Linked DNA regions of Homo sapiens: region 1 is linked to region 2. Evidence: fine-mapped expression QTL. A gene starts in region 2. The other region holds a variant in brackets. All regions are shown on one strand. Distances are from middle to middle.

Evidence for each region. PIP is the estimated chance that this variant, and not a neighbour inherited with it, causes the effect. A credible set is the group of variants that fine-mapping cannot tell apart.
Region 1: its variant is the best candidate, but not a certain one, in a credible set for the expression of SLC2A10 in adrenal gland (GTEx, PIP 0.86).

Annotation. Positions count from the first base shown.
Region 1 is chr20:46,542,723-46,551,055 of GRCh38, forward strand. It overlaps OCSTAMP (osteoclast stimulatory transmembrane protein), which reads right to left and starts at 7,932. Exons shown (of 3, transcript NM_080721.3): 1 at 7,795-7,932; 2 at 2,605-3,607. The coding sequence starts at 7,838. RefSeq lists enhancers at 2,238-3,089, 2,296-2,365. The variant C/T (reference allele first, on the strand shown) is at 4,731.
Region 2 is chr20:46,705,848-46,714,180 of GRCh38, forward strand. It overlaps SLC2A10 (solute carrier family 2 member 10), which reads left to right and starts at 3,802. Exons shown (of 5, transcript NM_030777.4): 1 at 3,802-3,893. The coding sequence starts at 3,890.

The DNA.
Region 1 (8,333 bases), 160 kb before region 2:
ATGGTATCTAGAGAGGCAGGGAAGAAAGAAGTTCACCATTTGAACTTTGGAACCAACCTGGGTTGGATTCTGCACTAACCCAGGTGCAGAAGGATAGCTTGCCACACCCCAAATGGTTCAAATGAATGCAGGAGAAACTCCCAAAGCTTTCAGAAAAGATGAAATAATGTGAAAGCAATGAGTGGGCCTGTACAATTTATGCTTTCCCAGAGGATCAGAGAGTGCCAGCCTCAAAACTTGCTGAGTGAGGGCCCGCAGCTTGCAAGAAAATGCTGGAAACAATGGTGGGGCATCACCGGGGCTCTGGAAGGCACAGAGAATGATATTGGAGGAAAAGCCTCAGAGACTGACTCCTCGGCCAGAGTCATTCAGAAAAGTCAGATTGAATGTTTTAGGAAAACCATCAGATTACTTCCCCTCCCTCCCTTCCTTCCTTCCTCCCTTCCTTCCTTCGTCCCTCCCTCTCTCTCTCATTCCTTCCTTTTTTCTTTCTTCCTTCCTTCCTTTCTTTTTCTTTCTTTCTTTCTTTCTTTCCTTCTTTCTTTTCTTTCTCTCTTTCTCTTTCTTTCTCTCTTTCTCTTTCCTTTCTTTCTTTCTTTCTTTCTTTCTTCGTTTCTTCCTTTTTTTTTTTTTGGAGTCTTGCTGGCTCAGGTTGGAGTGCAGTGGAGCAATCTCAATTCACTGCAAACTTTGCCTCCCAGGTTCAAGCGATTATCTCACCTCAGCCTCCTGAGTAGCTGGGATTACAGGCACACACCACCATGCCTGGCTAATTTTTGTATTTTCAGTAGAGATGGGGTTTCACCATGTTGTTGGCCAGGCTGGTCTTGAACTCCTGACCTCAGGTGATCCACCCACCTCGGCCTCCCAAAGTGCTGGGATTATAGATAGGCATGAGCCTCCATGCCCAGCCCCCTATTTTTCTTTTTATGTATACGCGAGAAAGATATGGCAAAATAAACCTATGTTAAATAATAAGTGAACTATTTTATACAAATACAATAAAAATTCTAAATGATAAGAAAGCATTGTGTCAAGGTTGAATTGGTAGCATTTTCTGCCCTAAGGATACATAAAGTAATGGTGTGACTTGCAATTGATGACTATCTGAGATTTGGTGAAAATGAGTAAATCAGGGAACATGCTTAGAACATTGCCTGACACATTTCTTTACTGTGACCTATGGTAAGAAATGCATTTTACAGGCCAGGCATGGTGGCTTATGCCTGTAATCCCAACACTTTGGGAGGCTGAGGTGAGAGGAATGCTTGAGCCCAGGAGTCTGAGACCAGCCTGAGCCACATAGTGGGACACCATCTCTAAAAAAAATATTAAAAATTAACTGGGTGGTGGTGGTGCATGCCTGTAGTCTCAGCTACTTGGAAGGCAGAGGTAGGTGAAGTGGGAGGCTCGTTTGAGCCAGGAGGTCAAGGTTACAGTGAGCTGTGATTGCACCACTGCACCACTGCATTCTGGCATGGGCAACAGAGTGAAACCCTGTCTCAAAAAAGGAAAGAAAAGAAATGCATTTTACAGTACCTTCAAAGCAGAGATTGTTTTGTAATTGAAGAAAATATTCAAAAACCATACACTCCCTTATTGCCTAAGATGTAATCTTATAATTTTCCAGTTGATTCTATTTCATTAAAAACACTATTTATGACTCCTTAAATTGATTAAATTGATTTTGTGCAGTCTGAAAAGCACTTTCTTAATATGTAATAAGTACTTGATAAATATAAACTGTTAATATTATTAGCTCGAAGTTTGACACTTTGATATGTTTTATGCAATGGACTTTTGTGTGAGACCTCACTACTAAAAATTAAAAATAAAAAGATCCGTGGCAAAAGAAAGGATCGAAAAACACAACTCTTGATCTGATAGTAATATATCCGATTATAAGTCGATAGTAAATATTTTCTATATCACTATTAAAATAGCAAATATTTCAGGCTTTGCAGGACATACAGTCTCTGTTGCAATTACTCAACTTTGCCTTTGTAGGGCAGCCACAGACAATATATTGACAAATGGCATGGCTGTGTTCTAAAAAAGCTTTATTTACAAAACCAAGAAGCCATTGGATTTGTCCTGAAGGCTATAGTTGGATGCCTCCTGATCAAGGCCATTCCAAAGTCCTCCTCCAGTCTGACATAGACAGATGTAAGCTATTAATAATAGCCACTCTTTATTAAATAATCTCTTATGTGCCATGGAGCTTACTAGGTACTTTAAGACAATACCACATTGTAAGACACAATAGCCTTTTAGGATTAGGAGGATCGATTCAATTTGTACAAATGTGGAAAATGAGGCTAGGACAAGCTGCCACTTGTGAAGGGTGACCTTGGATGCAAGTTATTTTAAGGTGTCTGGGTTTCAGCATCCTCAACTGCAATAGGAAGTGAAAATAGAAACCACTTCCTAGAGCTGTTGTGGGTATCCGATGAGTCCCTCTGCCCATGGTATGGGGCCCCATGGATGATTCAAGGGCTGTTTCTTGGAGGCAAGTCAAATTTCATCACAAGTCAAGGGTTTAACAGATTCTCCCCCTGCCCTCAAAACAATGACTCCCTTCCCTTTTCCCATCATCACACTTACATCATACTTGACCGTGAGCGTGATGGGCACAGTTGGCAACTTCTGAGCCCAGTCCACAGTAGCCTGTGCCAGGAGGAAGGCTACATGGTCTGTGGCCACCGCCACAGCCGTGGCCACGAGGAGCAGGGCAAGCAGCCCCAGCCTTAGAAGACAACTCAACAGCTCCTCCTGTGACAGCCTCAGCTGAGCCGCCTGGAGCAGCCAGGTGGGTGGAGGGGCCAGGAGGTGTGTAGCCTGGGCCTGTGCCAACCGCTGGGTCAGCTGTTGAGTGGCGTAGATATTGTCAAACCGCAGGTCTGTCAGGTAGCAATGGAGGTACCATGCCGACTCCACCAGGAGGCCCAACATAAACAGCCCTGTGACCACTCGCTGGGTCCCTAGCGCTGCTGCCCGGGCCAGGGACTCCAGGCCAGAGAAATCCTCCAGGACCTGCTGAGTGACCCTGAGCATGTGAAGGTAGAAGGCAGAGCCATTGTCCTGGGCCTCAAATGTCAGGCCCCGGCTGCCTGCCTGGCCTGTGGGGCCCAGAGCCCTGGATGCTGCATGCAGCTGGTGAGTGGTATTGAGGAGACTCTCCAGGGAGCCCTCGGTGACACACCTCAGCACCTGCCCGGCCGCACCCACGTTGGCCAGGACGTTGGGCACCACAGCAATGGCCAGGGTGGCAGTGCTGTAGGACAGGAGCAGCCGGCGGCCCTGCTCCATACCCAGGGTGGGCACGCTGAGTGCAAACAGGCAGCGGACTGGGGGTACCAGGCCCAGGCTCAGGAAGACCAGGAGGCCACAGACAGTGGCAACCATGGCTGAAGGTCCAGGAGGATAAAGCAGCAAGGATGCCAGCCAGTGATAAACCAGACCTGCAGCAGCAGCAGCCAGGGAGGCACACAGGAGGAGCTGGGTCAGCAGCTGGCCACAGCTGGCTGGAACAGGCTGGGAGAAGGCGTCCCAGGCAGCCTGCAGTGGGGCAAGGGCCTTCCAGAACCCCAAGTGCCAGGACCTCCACCTGCACACAAGGAAATTGAAGGGCATCTCTATCAGGAGGTGGGTGGGTGGGTGTCTGTCCACTGCCCCTGCCCCACATACCCATCACCAGGCTCTGCTAACAGACTCCACCCTTGTAGTTACCCAGGTGGACCAATCAGAGTAAGTCACTGTATACCCACGTGACACAAGCTGAACCAATCAGAGCCTTCCCCAGGATTACTCTCGCTGGAACTGTCAGGGAAGAGCCCAATTCCCATGCAGTACCTGAGGATGTGAGGATGAAAGTCTGCCCTGTTTGAGTCCATTATTACAGTTTTGTGAAGGCAACTGGCCCAAGAGAATGAAAGAGTCATGGAGCGAGAAGCACAGGTGAAAGAGAGAGAATGAGTAAGAGGAGAGAGAAGAAGAGAAACGATTTCACTTGAATTAATAGTCTTGGTGGCTTGCTGTATGATTCTGGACCTTCTATTCTTTCTGAACTTCAGGGTCTCCTCTATAATTTAGGGGTGAGGAGGGTGAACTAGTTGGCCTGTGAGGGACTTTTATATTCTATCATCCTTATATTTATTCATTCAACAAGTGTTTATCAAGCAACGACTTTGTGTTAACCATTGGAGAAACAGGAATGAAAAAAACAGAAGTCCCTACCTTCGTGGGGCTTGCACTATGTTAAGAGCGATGGCAGAGGAGTAGTAAGGAAAGCTTGGATTCTGAACACATTTTGTTGGCAGAGTCAACAAGATTTGCAGAGGCTGATTGGTTGTGGGGTGTGAGAGAAAGAGGGGAGTCAAGGATGACGAGGTGCTTTTGTGTCTGAGCAACTGGAAGCACCAAGGTGTCATTTCCTGAGATGAGAACTCTGTGGTCAAAACAGGTTTGAGTGGAGGGGGAGAGAGGAGGAATTCAGTTCAGAACTCTTAAATTTGAGATTCAGTTGAGCCATTCCGTGGAGCTTTTGACGACGTGGTTGGAAATAGAAGTCAGGAATTCAGAGGGGAGGTCAGGCTGGAGTTATAACATTGGGAGTCTGATTATTAGATGTCTCCCAACTTTATATCCCTACCTAAAGCCATGTGCACCATGAGATTCCTCAAGAGAGTGTGTCACTGGGGAGGAAAGACATCCAAGGACATGCCTCAAGG[C/T]GCTCCAAGGTTAGGGGCTCTTAGATAAGGAGGAACCAGCAAAAGAGACTGAGAAACCAATGTGGTGCTTAGGAAGCCAAATAAACAAAATGTTTCAAGGAGAAAGGAGTGATCAAGTACGTCAAATGCAGCCAACAGGTCAAGAATGATGAGGACTGAGCAATGCCTATTAGCCGCTTAGAGGTCACTGTTGACCTTGGCAGGGAGAGTTCGGTGGCTTTTGGGGCCAAAATCCAACTAGACTGGGTCCAGGAGAGACGGGAAGGAGAAGAATAGGAAACACAGATACAGACAACTCTTTCCGGTAATTTCTACACTAAAACAGCAGGGAGATGAAGCAGTGGCTGGTAGCTATGGGAAATTGGACCAAGAGAATTCATGTAAAGGGAGGAAATCTATAGCATGTTTGCAGGTGGGAGATCTCATCGAGAGGGGAGACATTGACAAAGGGGAGACTCCCTGGAGTGACACCTGTAGGGGTGGAGGCAGAGAGTGAGACTGAGAACATGCAAGGTGGGGCTGGTCTTAGAATAGAGCAGGGGTCGTTCATCCTTAATAGCAGGTGGGAAAGCAGAGGAAATAGGTACAGATGATGGCGAATGAACAGGCAGCGTGTATGCACCTGTGAAAAGTATCCTCTGATATACGCAGAGCAGAGTAATGTTAAGGGCATGACCTCTGGACTGCCTGGGCTCAAATTTCTGCTCCACCACTTGCCAGCTATGTGAACTTGGGTACATATCACAACCTTTCTGTGTCTCAGCTGTCTCATCTGTAAAATGGTGCAATAAAAGTATGCACCTCCTGGGGTCACTTTGTTTCTGGCACATGGTAAGTATCACATCAGCTATTACCTACCACTAGAGTCAACTCCACCGGAGCAGGGACTTTGTCCGTTTTGGTCACTGATATGTCCCAAGTGCCTACAATAGTGTCTGCCATGTTGTGAGTGCTCCAAAACTATTCATTAAGAGTAGCATGACCGATTGCTTCTGTTTGCTCAGGTTGGCAGGAAGCAAGGTCAGCAGAGAAGGTAAGATGCTGGCGGAGGTGATGGATGCTTGAAGAGGAAGAAGAAAGTACAAAATGGTTGCCCAGGAAAGTGGGAGAACAAACGAACTGGGGCAATAACATATGTGCTGGGCAACACTGAGGCCCACTTGAGGTTGGAGATCATACATTATCTTAAGTGAGAGCAGGCAGAAAGGTTATACGGGAATATGGTTATAAAGGGCAGGGAGGGTGGTGGGGAGGCTGTCACTGTGTTGGTTACAGGCAAAGCTGCTGACTTGCTCCACCATCAACAGCTTGAAGGATAAGCATGTGACTGGGTCTAGTTGATCCAAGTACCTCTGATCCCCTGGCCACCGTGACTGGTGCAGGGATTGCACCTGACCGGAGATGGACCAATAGAGCTTTCCTCAGGATTTTGCTGCAACGACAAAAAAACTGCCCTTTGTTGCCTTGAGAGCTAAGCTGGTAGGAAGATGCCTCAAGCCTTGGGGACCACCATGTAGTATGAGTCGGCCTGGGATGAAGGCAACACAAGGAAAACAGTGTTAGGAAACAGACAGAGAGTCCCAGTGGCCTTGTTGGAGGACCTGGATCCAGAAATGCCTGAAGCCGAAATCTATGCCGGACCACACACTAGGAGATGTCTGTTTTTCTACAGGCAGTGTAAGATCAATCTGTCACTTGCAACTCAATGAGTCCTGACTAATACAGAAACCTTTGTCACAGGGCTTCTGGGACAATAAAATGAAATAATCCATGTAAAGAAGTTTACACAGGGTCTGGCACAGAAGAGGGATCCTATAAAACTGCACCACTTGTTACTCTGATGATACTTATGTCAACGATGTAAATGTTTCACTCGAGTCTCCTCTGTGCCCAGGCTCTGTGCTGACCCCTGTGGACACAAAGATGAATTAAGTCCTGGTCCCACTAAAGGAGTTCACAGTCTAATTGAGGAGACTTAAATAGACCATTAGAGTTTAAGTTCATTAACAAAGAATTCTGAGCATAGTATGCCTGGGCCTGGACTGGGGTGGGATAGATGGAGAGTGACCCAGTTTTACCTGGGAGTCAGGAAGGCTCCCTGGAAGAGGTGACATTCCAGCTGGGGGTGGAAGGACAAGTGTCAGTTTGTGGGTGAAGAAGGGAGTTGGACATCCCTGACAGAAGGAACAGCGTGTGCAAAGGTCCTGTGCTCTGACCATCGGGAAATAGGGAGTTGGGAGAACCAGAACAGTGGGAAGCTGAGATGCAGTGAGGCCTGTGGGGCTGGAGTGAAGGTCACAACCTTGAAGCCCTAAAGGCTGAATCATATGCAAATGTGCCTTATTGTGGCCCACTCTGTGTGTGTGTGTGTGTGTGTAAGCTGCCCCCATTTGGAAATAAGGAAGTTTCACATTAAAATCTGGGTTTCCAGCTTTTCTTGAGAGATAAGAAGATCTGGGTTAGAGCTCCCACCTTTGCAACAGGTAGCTGGAGCTGAGTATCCACTACCCACCTTTGACAGGGGAGCAGCCCTGCAGACTGCATCCTGCTGATCAATGAACGGGTCCGTCTGCACACCCAGGTGGCCTTCCACAGGTGCAACCCCTTCCCAGCTCCCGAAGGCATTTGAATTTGGGACTAAACACCCCCTTCTACTATATAATTAATATTTGGAACACAGTAGCTTTTGGAATAATAGCTAATAATAAAAACAATTTTAAGGATTGAAAGCCAGTCCTAAGTCATATTGGATGACAATTCCTGCACGGGGTATTGAAAATGGCAAGGAAACTAGCTGCTGTTTAGTGAGTGCTTCCTCTGAGCCAAGCAGGTGCCAAGTACTAAGCATGTGTTTTCTCATTCAATTCTGGCAACAGTCTTGTAGATGTCATTATTACTTCCATTTCACAGATGGGGAACTGAGGCTCACAGAGAACTGAGGATTTGCCTAAGGTCACATAGCCAAGGAATGGCAGAGCTGAAGATTTGGGTTCATATCCATCACCCCCAATGGCTGACTGTTTTCTCACCTGTAGCCCTCAGTGTCCAAAGTCCCCAGACCTACCCGGTCTTGACAAGTTGCTCAGCTGCTCCTGGGTGGCCTGGCATGCTGTCCAAATGGCAGTGGTTTCAGGCGGGCGGTCGCTGGCAGCTGTGGCAGGTGGAGAGGAAGTGGGGGAATCGCTGGGACTTGGGAATCCCTGCCACTTCTGCTTTTCCACTCTTTAATGAAGCTCTCCTGGCTGCCTTGTCCCGCCCTTTTCGGGGCCCACCTCCCAGAGGGTTGGGCAAGCTGCCTCATCCTCTGCCCACAAGCAAGAGCGGGTGGAAGGTGTGGGAAGAGGAAAAGACAGCCTTTTCCAAGCGATGTCTCTAATCTTGGTAGCAGGAAGGTAGAATTAGCCCCATTTTACAGAGAAGGAAACTGAGGCACAGAGAAACCATACAGCTTCCCTTTCCCTCCCACTCCATAGTTGTGTGCCCCAAGGGGAGCCTGATCCCTGCTCTTGGGACTCACAGGTGATAATCAGACCCCTGCCAAGTACTGGGAGCAGTGGCTCTGGTCTCCTTCCCCAGCCCCCTTCCTGTCTTTAGCCTGACTTG
Region 2 (8,333 bases):
TTTAAGCTGGCTGCTTGTCTCTCTCCTGATTTCTGGAAAGGTCAGATAACAACTTAGCTTAGGTTCAGTGACCTGGAACTCTAGCATGGGTGACTCCATTTTGATTTTCAGTCTGTTCTGTTGGGGACTAGTGCAGGAGCTTAGTCCAAAACAATGGCTGGTAAGGTTGCCAGATTTAGCAAAAACAGCAACAAATAGTATGCCCAGTTAAACGCGAATTTCAGATAGACATCAAATAATTTTGTAGTAAAATTATGTCCCATGTTTATCTGAAATTCACATTTAACTGGGCATCCTGTATTTTATCCTGTATTTTATCTAAATTCTGTGTCACTCCCCAAGAAATCAACTTGGGTTCTGAGGCCATCTATAAAAGGAAGTTTATTAAAGTGGCTTTTTAAGGGAATTTTTTTTTTAAATCAGAGAAACTCCTTTTTCCATGATGGACCCCAAGCTAATGAATAGGCTTTTAAAATAGTGAGTGAGAGGTTTACAACACTTAAGAGACAGACATTGGTGAGAAGGGCTTTTCAGCAAAGTCCTATAATTGCTGAATGGGTTCTTCCTGCTCGCTGCACAGACAAAACCAGTTCACTGAGACTGCAGTATTGCAGTAGAGAAAGAGTTTTATTAATGCAGAGCTAGCCAAGTGGGCTAGGTGGAGTTATTCCTCAAATCAGTCTTTCTGAAAACTTCAGAAACCAGGGTTTTTATAAATACTTTGGTGAGCAGGGGGATAGGGAATGGGTGCTGCTGATTGGTTGGGGGGGTGAAATCATCGAGATATGGAAAACAGCCCCGTGCACTGAGTCTGCCTCTAGATGGGAGCCACAGGACCAGTCCACTCATGAATCTTTAGTCCAGGCGGGGTCAGTTGGTTGCCAGGATGTGAAAGTATGAAAAACATCTCAAAAGATGAATCTTAGGTTCTACAATAGTGATGTTATCTACAGGAGCAATTGGGGAAATTACAAATCTTGTGACCTCTGGCCACATGACTCCTGAGCAGTAAGGAATTACCAAAACTACACCTGCATTTTAGCATAATTCAGGCCCATCCCATAATCCTAACCTCATGGACTTTCATTAATTTTACAAAGGTAGCTTCAGTCCCTGAGCAAGGAGGGGGTTAGTTTTAGGGAGTGATTATTATCATCCTTGCTTCAAAGTTAAAATATAAACTAAACTCCTCTCGTGGTTGGCTTGGCCTATACCCAGAAATAAGCAAAGACAGGTAGCCGGTGAGGTCAGAGTCAAGATGGAGTCAACCATGCCAGATTTCTCTTGCTCTCTAATCTTTGCAAAGGCATTTTCAGTCCCTTAAGATCACATTAAATTAAAGTTAGATACCATCCTCACCGATTTCTCAGCTTCTGATGGTTAACTGTTCAAGGGTCAGAGGAGAGATTCAAGGCCAAGGGTGATAAGCCTCCTAGTGTCCATGTAGATATAACCTAATCTCTACTTTCTCCTGGAGATGATCCATCTCCTTTTTCTAATCAAGATAATGAACAATAATGAAATGTGTATTCGTTATTTATCACTGTATAACAAATTATTCCCCAAATTTAGTGGCTTAAAGAAACAAACATTTATTATCTCATGTCTTCTAGGATAAAGAATTTAGCATAGCTAAATTCTAGCTCTGAGCAAGAGCTCAGAATCTTGCAAGGTTGAAATCAAGGTGTCAGCCAGGACTAGAGTCACCTCCAGGCTAGGCTGAGGGAAGATTCACGTCCAAGCTCACCACAAGCTTGTTGGCCAGATTTAGCTCCTTAGGGGCTGTTGATTTAAGGGCTTTAGTCCCTCACTGGTTATTGCCTGGAGGCATTAGCTATGTGATTCAATAGCTTCGCTCCATGTGGGCCTCTCCATTGGGAAGCTCAAAACATGGCAGCTCAATTGCTTCATCAGAGCAAACAAGTGAGAGATCTCGAAACTGAACAACACAGAAATCATTTATAACCTAATCCGAAAATGACATCCACCATATTTGCCGTCTTCTATTCATTAGACGTTGCTAAGTGATACTTCTAGTGACATCTAGAAGAGAAGAGGATGCCACTAGGCCACGAATACCAGGAGGGTCTCAGTGTAATCAGACTTTTTATATGAAGGCTCAGGGATCCAGGCACCAGTATTCCAGTGACCCAGCCTCAGAAGTTACACAGTGTCACTCTGCAGGCTACTGATCAAACCAGTCACAAGCCCACTTTTATTTCAAGGGAAGGAACAACGAATTCTGGAGCCATGTTTTCAAACTGCCCCAGCTATTATTATTTTTGAAACTGTGCAAGGATCCCCTGGTTCAGAGGTCTTATGGATGCTGTCATCTTTGCTGAGATACCTGCTTGTGCCTTCAGCATGGAAGAATGCCTGTGTATCCACCTGTACGGTAGGGGTCGCTGTGACTTTGACTGGTGAGGGTACAGCCACTGGTGCACATGCAAAGGTGCCTATCTGTGAACACGTATTGAGAGGCTGGATAAGGCTGCGCCCATGTGAGTGCTGGGCTTGTACGTGCATTTTTGCCTGAGTGAGCATTAGTGGCAGTGTCCCCAGCCTACCCCTTTCCTGAATCCCAGGCTCATAGCCAACTGCCCACCTATTTCCACGTGGATGCCTGCTGAGCACCTCAAATGTCACACAGCCAAGACAGAACTCTGGATCTCCTTTCCCAGCCACAAGCTGCCCCTCTTCCAGTCTGTAAGTTCTTACGGAGCATATATATGTGATCTGCCTACTTTTCTCCAACCTCACCACAGTGACATGAGCCCAAACCAACTTCTCACCTTGCAACAGCCTCCCAGGTGGGAAGGCTGAGTATTCTGGCCCTTAACCAGTTAGAACTCCCCAGTTATCTGTCCTGCTGATGGGGTTGAAATCTACATTCCTGACCCTGGCCCACCAAAGCCCCTCCCTTAGCTCCCATCTCCCTCCTCTCTCCCTGTCTTCTCCTCTGCTCCAGACACTCTGGCTTCATTTCTGCGTTTTTTGTACCCCATAAGCTCCTTCCCACCCCGGGGCCTTTGCCTTTGCTGTTCCCCCTGCGGGGAATGCCGGATCTCTGCTCAGATATCCTCTTCTCAGATCAGCAAGCTAAAGCAGCCACCTGTGTCTGCCTAACCCACCACCGTAGTTTAACTTTCTGCCTAGTCTTTATCACTAGCTGATATTTCTCAGGATCCTTTAGTTACTTCTTTTTCGTCTTCCCCTCCTAGAATGTAAACTCTTCCCCTCCTAGAAGGTAAACAAAAGACCTGTTCTGTTTTGTTCTTCGGCCCATCCCAAGCCTAGCGTAGTGCCTGGTATGTGGTGGTGTCCAAACCCAAGCGTGGAGTGAATGAGGGATGAATCCATGAGAGAGTGAGCGGCTCCAGTGGGTATGCGCGAGTGTCTCACTCGGTGTAGATGTGTGTGTTGTGTGTGTTGTGTGTGTGCGCACGCTGGGGAGGCCAGACAAGTGTGGACCAGTGATTGGGGCACCTCTTCCCTGCAAAGAGGCCAGGGGAAGACAGTGCGTGTGGGGTCTTCTACCAGGGAGGATGGCTTGCTGGTGTGTCCCCCCCAGGGGAGGACTACCAACGAAGGGGACCCGGGAGATGGCGGGTGGGGGCCCCCGGGAGGACAGTGGGCGAGGGAGGGGGTCCTTGCCAGGCCTGGGGCGGCCGGGGGCGGTCCTGGGCTCCCCTCCGTCCCGCCTCCAGGCCTCGGGGCCTGGCTGGCCGACGTGGCGTTGGCGGCGCTGCGCGCGGGAGGGCAGGGCAGGAGGGACAGAGGCGGGGGCGGGCCGGAAAGTTTGTCCGGCGGCAGCGGCGTTGGGGACTCCGGCGGGGGATGCGCGCCCGGCCCCTCAGCGCCCCCAGCACGCCGCCGAGTCCCGCTCGCCATGGGTAAGTCCCGATCGGGCGCTGCCTGCTGGAAGCCCGACCCCTTCCCAGGGTGTAGACACCGCCCCCACGCTCCCCTAAGAGTGCGCGCCCCCTGGCTCCCCCAGGGCCGCCCCGGCCGGATACCGCCTCTCGGGTGGCCAGCCCGAGACTGCAGGCCTGCGGCGGGGGCTGGGACGGGGCTCGGTCGCGCTTCCTTCCATCTTCCTTTCTGCCCCGGAAAAGTGGCCCCTCACTTGCTGCAGCGCCCACTCGGGCCCAGGCACTCTCCCGGGCGCCCTGATCCGACAGCCCCAGGCAAGTGCAGCTGTTCCTGGTCTGCAGATGAAGAAATGGAGGCTCCGAAAGAAGCAAAGCAGTTCATCGATTCGCTGAGCGCGGTTGTGCCCCAGGCGCTGTTGTGGGCCTGGGGACGCTGTCGCGAACGAAACTGCGAACAAAACAGACGAACCCCCTCCTCTGGACGTGATTCTGCAGAGAGGGGACAGAGAAGGAGATTCTAACACAGCATTGGGGTGGGACGCGTGGGGAATGGCTTTGTTGCCACTCGGGACTAGGGCTCTATTTTTCTCTCTGCATTCAGAAGCCTCGAAGGATCAGTCGTTGATTCTTGAGTGAGCACCTACTACGTGCCAGACATTGATATAGGGGTTAGAGCTTCAGCAATGAACAAAATAGACAATAAACCTCTCTCTCATGGAGGTGGCATTCTGATTGAGCAGCTGGGTAAACACGTTTATGAATAACTTCAGAGAGAGATAAGGTGTTGTGGAACCCATAAAATGGGGTGGCGTGAAGGCCAAGGGCGTGGGTTCCTTGGGTAGGTGGTCAGGGTGGGTTTTCTGGAGTAGGACGTTTTGGAGCTGAGAACTTCCTCAGAAGCGGGTCTTGCTGAGATCTGGAGAAAGAGCTTCCAGGTGGCAGCAACAGTGCAAAGGCCCTCAGGCAGGAATGAGTTTGTGTGGCCCAGGCCAGGATGGCCAGAGCACAGCGGGCAGGGCACTGAGGTCAAAGGGATGGCAGAGAGGTGTGCAGGGCTTTGTAAGCCGTGGTGAGAAGTTCAGATTTTATTGCAAATGCCACGGCAAGCTGGAGAAGGGTTTTAAGCTGGAGCGGGGCCGTGACCTGAATTATCTTTTCTTTTTTTTTTCTTTTTTTTGAGATGATCACTCTGTCGCCAGGCTGGAGTGCAGTGGCGTGATCCCGCTCACTGCAACCTCCAGCTCCCTGGTTCAAGCAATTCTCCTGCCTCAGCCTCCCAAGTAGCTGGGATTACAGGCATACACCACCACGCCCAGCTAATTTTTGTATTTTTAGTAGAGAGTGGGTTTCACCATGTTGGCCAGGATGTCTTGATCTCCTGACCTCGTGATCCGGCTGCCTCGGCTTGGGATTACAGGCGTGAGCCTCCGCGCCCGGCCCTGAATTAACTTCTCAAAGTTTGCTCTGAGTCGTTCTGTGGAGAATCACAGTCGCTAACACTGGCTATGATGTAGGTAAGCATAGAAGGTAGGCATTAATATCCCATTTGTAGATGGGGAAGCCCAGAGAGGTGAGGTGAGTTCCCCAAGGTCACACAGCTATGGAGAGGAGAAGCTGGGAAGGAGCCCCAGCATTCTGACTCCAGTCTGCATTCCTAACCACTGCACCACGTGGCCTGTCATGGTGGATTAATGGTAAAACTGGTGACCAGTTCCGGCTCTGACAGGAGAGTCCATCCTCTTAACCCCCACAGCACAGTGCCCCAGAGCCTGAGAAAAAAATGAGGCCCAGAGAGGTCAAGGTCTTCTTAAGGACACTCAGCTTAGCCCTAGCCCCTTGTTCCTGCACCTCCTATTCCTGCTAAATCAACCCAACAGCCATTTGCTGAGTGCCTTCTATGGGCAGAGCGAGGGCTGGGTGTTAGTGCTGGGGGAGGCATAAGTCATGGCTGCGGGTCTCTGTCCTCCCCAGAATTCTTACACAGCAGGGACCAGGGATTGGGCTCTCTTTATAGCCTCTGGGGGCAGAACTGGGTTCTAGACCCAATTCCTCTCACTTTGTTCCACCATTCCACTTTGACCTGGGAGAGTCTGCCAACTTCTCTGGTCACTATCAAATACCCTTATCACAGGGTAGCCATGAGAATGATGTGAAAAAATGAATTACAGTGCTCGGCTCATCACCTATATCTGGTAAATGGTGAGTGAATGTGAGTTTTTATTTTATATTGCACCCAATATTGGGATTCTGGAGTCAGACTGCCCGAGTTCAAGTTCCTGCTATGTGACTTACAAACTGTGCCACCTTGGGGAAATGTCTTCACCTCTCAGTGTGGTGGTTATTTCTGTAAAATGGGAATGACAATAGTGATTGTCATAGGATTGTCTAGGGATTAAGCCAGCTGGTACAGATACTGCCCCTTAGGAGAGTGGCTGGCTATAGTGGGTACTCCAAGTATCAGCTGTGGCTGCAATTGCTGGGACATTTGGAAGCCGGCCATCTGCAAGAGGATATTCATACAGTTCAATTTCACATCTGGCTTCTCCCTGGAGCTTCAGGGAAAGCCACAGCAGGTCTCTGGTGCAGGAGGGACCCAGTGCTCTGTGACCTCTGGTTGAGACACTACTCTAGTGTCACCAACGGGAGGCCTAGGACTTGCAGCTGGAGATACTTGCATCCCAAACCAGGGTTCTCCCCCCTCCCCCTGCCCCCTGACCCTGTCCCGGGGAAGCTGTGCCCTCCACAGCGAGGGGCTTAGAGGATTAAGGGATTTCCTCCAGTGTGGGACATCTTCACTACAGCCTATGTTAGGCAGGTTATTAATAGAAAGGATGCACACTTGCTAAACTTAGGTCAAGCCGTCTTAATGTGTTCTCCTTAATTTTCTTTCTTTTCTTTTTTTCTCTTTCTTTCTTTCTGTCTTCTTTCTTTCTTTTTTTTTTTTTTTTTTTTTTGACAAAGTCTGGCTCTGTCATCTAGGCTAGAGTGCAGTGGTACAGTCTCGGCTCACTGCAACCTCTGCCTCCCAGGCTCAAGCCATCCTCCCACCTCAGCCTCCCAAGTAGCTGGAATTACAGGTGCACACCACTATTCCTGGCTCATTTTTGTATTTTTTGGTAGAGATGGGGTTTCACCGTGTTACCCAGGCTGATCTTGAACTCATGAACTCAAGTGATCCACTTGCCTTAGCCTCCCAAAGTATTGGGATTATAGGCATGAGCCACCGAGCCCAGCCTAAGACATCTTAATTTGAGGACGAGGCTTTGCTCTGCTTCCTGTCCATGGCCACTTCCAGGCCCTGGACCTTTCAGATGTTCATGAGCCAAGATCCTTTCTTTCTGGATTTCCTACATCCCCACAGTTCATTTGGTTTTTCATTCATTCACTCAATCATTCATTTGTTTAACAAATATTATTGATTGAGTGCTGAGTAACTGTCCTTGGCCTCAGGGAGACAGCTGAGAAGAAACAAACCACTCCTGTTCCCTTGAGGCTGACTTTCAGGTCAGGGAGACCAATAAATATGTAAAATATGTAGTTATTTTGGAAGATGAGAAGTGCCACGCAGAAAAAACAAGTGGAGAAGGGAATACAAAGTGCTAGATGCTACAGGGAGGTTGAATTTTAGGTAGAAGGCCAGGGACAGCCTCACCGAGAAGGGGATGTTTCAGCAAAGATCAGAAGGGAGGAAGGAAGGAACTGTTGGCATGGAGGGACAGGACTTCCCAGGCAGAGAGGCTGGCAGGTACCAAGCTTTGAGTTGGGACGTGCTTGGAGTGAGAGTAGCAGCAAGGAACCAGTGTGACTGGAGCCCAGTGAGAGGGGGCAGATCCTGCAGAGTCTTGAAGGCCACGGTGAGGACGTTGGCTTTTCTTAGACTGAAATAGGAGCCTTGGAGGGCTCCTAGTGGAAGAGTGACGAGGCCTGACTTAGGTTTTCCCAGAATCCTTCTGGCTGCTGTGTAGAATTAGTTTAGGTTCAGAGGTATCTGACACAGCCCTAGAAATGTCATGAGGTGAAATAGCCCTGGTCCTCTACCCAGTCATTTGTTCATTCAGCAGAAACTTCACTGGGTTCCTCTTGGGTGTCAGGGCAGGGCTGGGGCCCCGGAGGCTCAGGACGAGTCAGTCTCTATCCCTGCCCTCCTTAGTTGAATATGGAAGACTCATAAAGGAACTTGCAGTGTGAAGGAAAAAGAGTACAGTGGAGAGTTGAGGAAGATGCATGGGAATTGGTCAGGAACTCCCTCAAACTTTTCCACTGAAAGGCACTAAGCAAACATCACTGTCTGCTGATAGGAAGGGTACTTGGGTACTGAGATTAAAAAAAAAATGACAGGCCAACCTTCAGAAAATCCAGAAATTGGCAATGAGTATTTATGGGTCACTGAAGTCTATGGCTTCAGGTGCAGTTGGATCTAGGGGCTCATACAGTGTTGTCAGGAATCCTTCATTGGGGAAG